3 separate regions of the Homo sapiens genome follow, and regions 1 and 2 are each reported to be linked to region 3. The links are microRNA targets in miRTarBase. Many come from high-throughput screens and were not tested one by one. Region 3 holds a microRNA gene; each other region holds the end of a gene's coding sequence.

Region 1 (3,256 bases), not on the chromosome of region 3:
GAGTGATTCCAGCAAAACCATCAAAACAAGTGCATGAAAATAACTTCCTCAGATAATCTTAAGGTAGGGAGTATGTAAAAGGCAATTTTTGAATCTTACTGGAAATTCAGGAGACATTCTTACCTTCTGAACTGATTCATACAATTCTCATATTTGAATTATCTGTCTGATATAGCACAAGAATATGTTCCTTTACATAGTTAATTTATTGCATTTTTCCCCCTTCCTTTTTCCCTGCAGCATTGACAAAATCTCTAAGATAACCTCTCCAGTATTAATAATTCATGGGACTGAAGATGAAGTCATTGACTTTTCACATGGCCTCGCATTGTTTGAACGTTGCCAAAGACCTGTGGAGCCTCTCTGGGTTGAAGGAGCAGGTCACAATGATGTGGAACTTTATGGACAGTATCTTGAAAGGTTGAAACAGTTTGTGTCACAGGAACTGGTAAATTTGTAAAATATTCTGTAAATTTGCTACTGGGTTTTCCTTTCTTGCTGAACTGCACTCTTTGGTAAATAACATAAAACCTGAAGGTTTTGTTTGCAAATCATGTCAGTTGCCTTCATAAATGTACAGGTAATGATTTGTTAACAGACTTAATGAAGGTTTTAATTACCAGAACTAAAAACTGGAAATAACAGTACCGTGCAGTCAGGCTGTGTAATTTATATTTTTTCTGTGAATTTTTTTTTAACATCAAGATGAGTACTGTATGAGATTTTAATTCTATAAAATCAAATGCTGTAAAAGTATTGCCAAATGCTTTTGCATACTAGAAACAAATTTATAAATATTTTTAAAACATCTCAATATATTAAATCTTATCCTGGAATACAACTGTAATATTTTGAAAAAAGCTATGTATCTAAAGCAATTTAAGTACTCATAATGGAATGAACTGTAAAAGAGATTTAAAACCATGCAAGTTCACTAGAATTAACCTAAACCCTGTTGTACAGGGATAGAGGTTTAAAGTTATTTTATTGTAAAATACATTGAATTTTCTGTATACTCTGATTACATACATTTATCCTTTAAAAAAGATGTAAATCTTAATTTTTATGCCATCTATTAATTTACCAATGAGTTACCTTGTAAATGAGAAGTCATGATAGCACTGAATTTTAACTAGTTTTGACTTCTAAGTTTGGTACTGTGAGGCAAGTACTTAAAATTTTCATGCTGGTTACTTAAAAGGCATTTAGAGATTTCAAGAATGATTTTGTATACGATGTTTTAAATTTTGACTGATCTCATAGTCTTCATAGAATTGCAGTAGTCTTCATTGTATGAAATCCCGAAAGTCCATGAGTTGATCTTAAAGACCACTAACAGACTGGCTATCAGATCCCTTTTCACTTTGGCTATTTTTTTCATTTTTTGAGATGGAGTCTTGCTGTGTCACTGAGGCTGGAGTGCAGTGGCGCGATCTTGATTCACTGCAACCTCTGCCTCCCGGGATCAAGTGATTCTCCTGCCTCAGCCTCCTGAGTAGCTGGTATTACAGATGCTTGCCACCACGCCTGGCTAATTTTTGTATTTTTAGTAGAGACAGGGTTTTGCCATGTTGATCAGGCTGGTCTTGAACTCCTGACCTCATGATCTGCCCTTGGCCTCCCAAAGTGTCGGAATTACAGGCATGAGCCACTGCGCCTGGCCCACTTTAGCTATTTTTAAAAATAGGACCTATTGTTTTGGATTACTATCTGAGAATTTCATGGATTCACTCCTGGGTATAGGAGATAAGAATACGTTTAATTCATAACTTTTATATTAACCAATATAGTAAAAAAATAAAGCTCACACATACAAAAACTAAGTTGCCTTTCCTTGAATGAACCCTGTCTGAATAAAACAATGAAAAATAAAAATAAAATTAATGGTATGTAGTCTAATTTGTAAATGAATGAATATGGAAATAATACACACTGTGGATATATTTTAAGGCCTTATGTAGTTTTAATTGTTCTGCTCGTTCCGTGGTTATGTTTAAGACTATAGTATATGACTCTCTTCAAAGTATATCAAGTATTGTGAATGCTTTGGTTCAGATGTGTCAAATTAACAGTAAAACAACAAATATACCACTGACCTGTGCTTATTTGCCTTTTTCCATGCTCCCCACCCCCACACTAGAAAGAGTGAAAAAAAATTACCCTTCGTTTTTATAGGACATAGTTTGAAAATTTTTAAAATTATATCATCACTTTTTTGGAGAGGTCTTTCTTTCTCAAGATTGTCTTGTAACCTATACAGTTTCTTCTTTGTACAGCATACAACCCAGGGCTTAGCTAAATGTTTTCTTTGATTACCTGGGGAAATCTAAATATTGATCCTATTCATTCAGTGTTCGTTCATTCAACAGACAGTTACTGAATGTATAAATCATGCAAAAACCTGTGCTAGGTAAAGACAGACTGTGTCCTCATAGATTTCATGGTATAGCTAAGGAGACAGGCACCTCATTGCACAAATATTACTATTTTGATAAGGGCTGAAGGAGATTTGTAAGGTATTGTAACAGGTAAAAGGTACTTTTGGGAGGGGAACATAGGGAGCAGGGCAAGGAAGAGTCCCCCAGAGAAGTGGTATTTCAGCTAAGTTTTGAAGGATAACTAAGAATTGGGTAGACCTGGGTGACCCAGGGGAAGCATTCCTAGCTGAGGGGAATGAATAATATATGGAAGCCTAGAGGAAGGAAGGTGCAGTTAAATATGAAGACTGGGCCAGGGGCGGTGGCTCATGTCTGTAATCCCAGTACTTTGGGAGGCTGAGGCAGGTGGATCACGAGGTCAGGAGATCGAGACCATCCTGGCTAACACGGTGAAACCCTGTCTCTACTAAAAACACAAAAAGTTAGCTGGGCGTGGTGGCACGCGCCTGTAGTCCCAGCTACTTGGGAGGCTGAGGCAGGAGAATCACTTGAACCCGGGAGGTGGAGGTTGCAGTGAGCCGAGATCGCACCACTGCACTCCAGCCTGGGTGACAGAGCGAGACTCTGTCTCAAAAAAAAAAAAAAAAAAAAAAAAGAAAGTTTGGCCTATGCATGAGGCTGCTAATTAGGAACACAATTACAGATGGCATGGTGAACCCTAGTCTTTATCCTAGAAACAAATAGGCCATTGATAGAAAAAGGAAACAGCACTTGTCAAGAGTATAGATGAAAAAATCTGGAGATTTTCGCTTGCTGGAAATAACGTGTAAGTCAGTTGTGTAGAAACTGATCTAATTTTAGAGTGGTGAAAAATACAT
Region 2 (3,256 bases), not on the chromosome of region 3:
AGGACAGGTGTGGTGGCCCACGCCTGTAACCCCAGCACTTTGGGAGACTCAGGTAGGAGGACTGCTTGAGCCCAGGAGTTGAAGGCTGCAGTGAACTATGACTGTGCCACTGTACTCCAGCCTGGGTGACACAGCAAGACCCTCTCAGAAAATTTGAAATTAAATAAAAATAAAATATCCCACCAGTGACACATGATGACCAGGTTCTCCAGTTGCTGATATAAACTGTTTGATGCATAAAACCCAGCCAGGGCAGAGTCCCTTGCCTTCTCTTGTACCTGGACATGGGCAGTGGGTGAGTGCTTCCTGAATGAGGGAATGAGGAATGCTCAAAGGGAAGCCTCCTGTCTCAGGACCTTGTGCTTTCTCTCTTTTCTTGCAGAAGGTGGAAGTGCCCATGATGCTGAGGCTCCTCAGGGAGCAGAGGATGTTCATGATCCAGACTATCGCTCAGTACAAGTTTGTCTACCAAGTCCTCATCCAGTTCCTCCAAAACTCCAGACTCATTTAATCACCCCAATCCAGCTCCTGGAGGAGGGACCCAGCTCCATCGCGCTGGAGGAGAGTCACCTCCAGACAACATCTGCTCCCCCCACAGGGGTGCAGGTGGCTGGCAGCAAACAGGCTCTCTGAAGACAGTAGCCAAGATTATTCACACATACCATGTATTATTTTATATGAGATAATTTATTTTTTTCCCCTTTGGAATAACTTTTGTGAATTATTATAATGCAGTTTCCCTAGTAATATAGTACTTTTCATTTGAACCACATCTTGACTGATCTGTATTGTAATATATGTCAGCAGGTAAGGTTGCCTGCTGGATCATTTTGAGGACAGAGGCATGAGGGAGCACATCTCTTGTGAAGTTGCAGCCAGATTTGTAACCAACCCTGAAATTCATCAGCTTAATTCATTTATCAGCTTGATTCATTCATCATTCATTGCTTATATCCAAAGCAAAGACGGTAAGAAAATGAATTCATCCTGAAATATAAAGAAAAGGGTCTGAAGGAACAAACACGATTCTCTTATATTTTGGGGCTCATGAGCCTTGATAGACAGTTTCCTCTCGTCTTCATTTCCACCCCTCATCCTCAGTAGTCTCCTCTCCCCCACGCCCCACCCCAACTTCCCCCCCAAGCTTGAGTTAAAGACAGAATAGCTAAAGACAGTGCTGCCTTTACAATGCAGTAATTGCCATCTTTGGGGCCGAAAGACAAGCTCTGTGTTGTGCTTTTCTTGACCACCCCTTATCCTGGGCTCTGGAGCTTGTGTTTCCCTGCTGGCGACTGTACCTTGGGTATTTGTTGCTACCTCTCCTGTTTGCTCAGTAGGACCCTGTCTGGTGGCATTGAGGCTCTGGACCAGACCATCTGTGCAGTTAAGGCTCTACCCTGATTGAGAGAGGATAGCAGACCTAGAAAGAGAAAGGAGTTGGGCAGGGCCTTTGAGGATTGTGTTTTTCAGGCAGGGCCTTGATGATCATTGTTTTTTATTTAAATAAGATGTGTGTGCTGGACAGAGACCTAAAAGTTGAGGTCACTAAGTCATTGGAAAGGCCATCAAGGAAACAGATGGGGAAGCTGATTTATGGGAGCTGTAAGGCATTTAGCTACATAACAGGGGTCCTGGCCAGGAAACACATCAAATGTGACCCCCGCTGTGCTGATATCATCTTCAGGCTTTGGTCTGCAAGATCAGAATTAATCCCACTCGGGACCCCATAGTCCAAACTTGGGGCCACTTGATGAACGATGGTAGAATTGTCATTGGCAGAGCCCTGTGCTTCTTTCCTTTTCTTCATAAAATCCACTCGCTGGTCAGTTATCTTCACTTTGAAGCCCAGTTCTTAGTTTCTTCCTATGGCTTCATTGGTCAGTGTCCTTCTGAATTTCCAAGGATGGTACACAATAAATCATGTTTTGTACTTTTTTCCTCTTACTGCATTTTGGGGGATTTATCATTCTATGTCTACCTTTTCTTGAGTACAGCTTTGATATGCACCTGTTGTTACGTGGTGATGGGAAGTCACAGGCGTGCTCTTTCTAGTTAATTTGATGCCACATCTTCCTTGTCTTTTCAGCTTGGGAAAAAGGCGGCAGTGGAGGAAGGCATGGAATGCCCACAGTGGTCAGTTCAAAGAACAAACGTGCAATTAAAAAACTGTAGTCAGCCAGGCACGGTGGTTCACACCTGTAATCCCAGCACTTTGAAAGGCCAAGGCGGGCAGATTGCTTGAGCTAAGGAGTTCGAGACCAGCCTGAGCAACATGATGAAACCCCGTCTCTACAAAAAGTACAAAAATTAGCCAGGCGTGGTGGTATGCCCTGGTAGTCCCAGCTGCTCGGGAGGCTGAGGCAGGAGGATCACCTGATTCTAAGAATTCGAGACTGCAGTGAGCCGTGATCTTGCCACTGTAGTCCAGGCTGGGCTACGGAGAGACCCTGCCTCCAAAAAAAAAAAAAAAAAAGGAAAAAAGGTTGTCAAGAAAAACTAGATGTTAGGAGAAAGGAAAATTTAATTGCAGTTTTTTTTCTTAGAATTGACTGCTGTGAGAGTTCCATATGCCTTTCTTCATTGCTGCTTTTGTCCCCCGTGAGCTAAAAAGATGGAGTGACATCAAATCAACCAGAAAAAGTATGCCTTTGTGACATCCCATCACCACATGCCAACAGGTATATATTCCCCATTAAGTTCTTCGGAATAGGAATCCTCTGTTTCAACCTGGCCAGGTGTTGTGGTGGCTGTACTCTAGTTAGACTCGGAATATCTGGGGATGGAGGGCTTCCCCTGTGTCTTCTACTTCAAGGTCTGAAGGCTCAGTGAAGGAGTATAATCTGCTGATCTTTGTAGATTCTGGAGTTTTGTTGTATGTCCTGGAAAGAAACCCATTAGTATTACATGTATTTTCAGTGAACAGAGCTTATAACCCTTATTATAAGAAGCTCATCAATAAGCAAAAAGATACTTGTTTCCTTTCCTTGGAGGTTTTTCCATCCTTGGGATATTCTGCTGTTAGGGATGTTTTAGCAAGTGGTCTCAGTTACTGGTTTATTGCGTGATGAACAACATCAGTATTTATCTTTTATCTCTAAGCCCCAAGGTGGGCACTGTTAGAATATGTCTCATGTGGACAGCATATAGATCTGGTGCGTCTTTGAGGTCGTCAGAGCTCATGGGCTTCCCTGAAATTCATCCACTGTCCCTGCCGTATGCTACGGGAATATTCATTAGTGTACAAAATGCAGGGAGG
Region 3 (3,256 bases):
ACTTGGGCTCATGGCCCCAAGGTCTGTCTTCTCCCTGAGTGGGTAGGTCCCAGAGACAGCTGCCCTTCAGGGCCTTCAAGGCTCTTCTGGTTTTGTAAAAGACTTTGTGAATCCAAGAAGAGCATCTATTCTAGGAACCACATTTACTGATCATCAAGCTACTGGCTGCCGTTTATTGAGCTCTTATCATATGCCAGGCACAATACTAAGTCTTTGTGTGTATTTACCCATCCCCTTGAGCCCATTGTTGTTTTTCCCATTCCATGGGGCCTCTCCTGAAGCCTCAGTAGATGAGCCCGTCTTCCAGTCTGGTGCTGTTTTTGGGACAAATAGGAGATTGACCCCAGGCCGTTCCACCTACCCCAGGGGCTTCCACCAACCCCAAAGTCTTCCCAAGGCCTTGGAGAGCCCTCTTTCGAAAGCATCTCCTGTTCTGGGTAATGACAATAATAAAATCATAGCAGCTGTCAATTGCGAGCACTTGTCATGTACAAAGACTGTGCCCCATCGGCGCATGACTTCATTTCACCTGTCAACACCCCTGTGAGATGGTTACTGTTGTTATTCCCATTTTATAGAGGAGGAAGCTGTGGCTTGGAGGGCTAGGCATTTGCCCAAGGTCAACCAGCTTGAATCACTGGCAGAGCCAGGGTTAACATTCAGGGCCCCACCCATCACCACGGTGTGGCACTGCCTCTACTTCCTATCCCCCTCCAGAGAGAGGCTTATGTGAACCGAGTATTAACTCTGAGCCATAACCAGGAGCCTGCTATGGGTTCTGAGCTTTTATAGGATGTGGTGGAAATAGCAGGGCTCTGGTACTCCAGAGGTCAAGGTTCCCAACTCAGCTCTAACACCAACCAGCAGAGCGACCCAGGACCACATGTTGCCTCTCTGAGCCTCAGTTTTCCCATGTTTAGCAGGACAGGACTGGGCTCTTAGAGAGTTCATAGCACCTTTCCAGCTCCTGGTGGGTTCAAGAGAGAACTCCCGGGATGAAGAGATGAGAGCACTGAGGTTGGGGGGTCAACTGGATAGCCAGGGCCCTAGTTCTGTCCTAAGAGGAGGAAGTTGTGTCTTCTCCATCCAACCATCCAAAGCCCTCCCCAGATTTAGCCGGCAGTGCGTGGTGGACAAAGACAAGAGGAACCAGTGCCGCTACTGCAGGCTCAAGAAATGCTTCCGGGCTGGCATGAAGAAGGAAGGTGAGCCTCGGCCCTCCCCGCCCCACCACCACTGCCCCACCTGCACCCACAGCTCCCCGACAGTCATTTACAACTGTAGCCACACTTTATGACTCAGTGGCAGGCCCCAGGGTGACTGGCTAATGGCTGAGAAGAGGGAGGGCCTGGAAATCTGACCATAGGGAGCGGCTGGGCTTGGTCTTGAGAAAGATTCAGAGAGATAAGCTCCCACTCTTGGCTCCTCAGGCTCCCAGCAACCACCACCCCTGCCTGCCTGTCTGCGCCACCACAAAGCAGCCACGTTGTGTGTGTGTGTGTGTGTGTGTGTGTGTGTGTGTTTAATATAATATTTCGAACGTTAGGACAAGCATAGAGAATGATATTGCAAACATCTGAGTACTCACTATCCCAACTTTACAAAAGGGACAGCCAGAGGAGCCCGATGCCTGAGCTTCCGGTCCCAGGGACAAATGCCCCAGTTCCCTTAGTATTCATTCGTGGGTATCACGTGATCTCCAAAGTCTTCACATTCTAGAAAATGGGAACAAGACCCCAGACCCATCCTGGACAAAGGAGGAGAAGACCAGAGCACAACATTTATTAAGGTCTTGCCAGGCTTCCTGCTACCAGCAGGTATCAGTCACTGGGCTGTGCTTTTTCCACACTTCAGTAGGTTGGGTTCATTTCATTTTCATGACAACCCTATATGGGAAAATGTTGTGAAAATGAAATGAGCCCAGCCCATTGAACCTATTACAATTCCTCCCTTTTTGTGGATGAAGGAACTGAGGCCCACAATGGTTAAGCAACTTGCCTAGGGCCCCACAACTGATCCTTGGAAGATCTGAAGTCCCAGAGCTTCTGCTATTTGGACCACACTTCAGCACTGTCTATTATTTTATGCTCTCCAGATACCAGGGACATTTAAAATTGTTTTCAGCCCAAGCAAGGGAAGCAAAAATCTTTTAACTGCTTTAAAGTAACTTGAGGCCAGGCGCAGTGAATCAGGCCTGTAATCCCAGCACTTTGGGAGGCCGAGGCAGGCAAATCATTTGAGGTCAAGAGTTCGAGACCATCCTGACCAACATGGTAAAACCCCGTCTCTACTAAAAATACAAAAAAATTAGCTGGGCGTGGTGGTGCATGCCTGTAGTCCTAGCTACTCGGAAGGCTGAGGCAGGAGAATTGCTTGAACCCAAGAGGAGGCGGTTGCAGTGAGCTGAGATCATGCCACTGCACTCCAGACTGGGCAAGACAGCGAGACTCTCTCAAAAAAAATAAAAAAGTAACGAGTTCATTTTCGAATCTCTTCATTTCCTGCTCCTCTAAACTCAACCTTTCCCAGCTCTGCGACTAGTCCCAGACCTTCCCTTCTAGCCCACAGTTGTGCCGTACCAGCCAAACCTTGGTCTAGTCCTGCTAGTTCGGTACAAACACCCCTCACCCCCATCACCCCAGCACACCCCAGAAGCAGGAACGTAGGACCCAGCTTGCTCCAGGGCCCACTGAGAAGGAGGGGAGGGGAGGCTTTGGTAGACTCTCTTTCCCCTGTATCTGCTCCTGGCCCCCTGTTTTCTCTGCCCCCTCCCTTGGAAATATCTTCTATGTCTCATCCTTATGGGACCTTAGTCTGGGCTCATGAGCTGTCTTGGAAAATCTGGGCTTGCTGATCCCGATGCAGGAGTGGGTGGTCCCCAAGGCCTGCTCTGAACGCTGCAATTCTAACATCTAGATATCAGTGGTTCTCCAAGGGCAAGAGGGGCTTTTTAAGCTGCAAATACTCCCTCCTCTCCCAAACCCAGTTTTCAATGGGGTTAAGCCTGTCTCATCCACTTCAACTTCCATTTTGTGGACTGGGAAAGATTATGAATGGGAACCTGATGCATGTGTGAACAGTTGGAGGCAAGAAAAAGATTGAGAACTACAGTCTAAGGTTCCAACATTTCTGTGGTTGTATTAGTCAGTGATTCCATTATCCCAAAAGCCTAAGATTTTAGGCACTATGATTCCTCATAGGTGTCATCCAGAGGGCACTGTGTTTGAGAGAACAGCTCTCTCACAGTGAAAGTTCA

What was found. Region 3 holds the annotated microRNA hsa-miR-3646 (AAAAUGAAAUGAGCCCAGCCCA, at 1,907-1,928, shown strand). A microRNA usually pairs through its seed, bases 2 to 8, with sites in the 3' UTR of a target mRNA and lowers its output. Matches are read on the target gene's strand: a 7mer-m8 pairs with bases 2 to 8, a 7mer-A1 pairs with bases 2 to 7 and ends in A, and an 8mer does both.
Region 1: the mRNA of ABHD17B is a reported target of hsa-miR-3646. Seed matches in the 3' UTR shown: 7mer-m8 at 1,377-1,383.
Region 2: miRTarBase lists PTPN14 as a target of hsa-miR-3646. Seed matches in the 3' UTR shown: 7mer-m8 at 758-764, 8mer at 913-920 and 7mer-m8 at 1,078-1,084.

What each region holds. Positions count from the first base shown.
Region 1 is chr9:71,863,991-71,867,246 of GRCh38, reverse strand. ABHD17B (abhydrolase domain containing 17B, depalmitoylase) reads left to right here. Exons shown (of 4, transcript NM_001025780.3): 4 at 241-2,095. The coding sequence ends at 460. Among named protein-coding and RNA genes, the nearest start is that of ABHD17B, 46 kb to the left of the region's middle.
Region 2 is chr1:214,355,177-214,358,432 of GRCh38, reverse strand. PTPN14 (protein tyrosine phosphatase non-receptor type 14) reads left to right here. Exons shown (of 19, transcript NM_005401.5): 19 at 383-3,256. The coding sequence ends at 511. Among named protein-coding and RNA genes, the nearest start is that of SMYD2, 76 kb to the right of the region's middle.
Region 3 is chr20:44,406,271-44,409,526 of GRCh38, forward strand. It overlaps MIR3646 (microRNA 3646), which reads left to right and starts at 1,850; the gene lies at 1,850-1,933. HNF4A (hepatocyte nuclear factor 4 alpha) reads left to right here. Exons shown (of 10, transcript NM_175914.5): 3 at 1,111-1,205.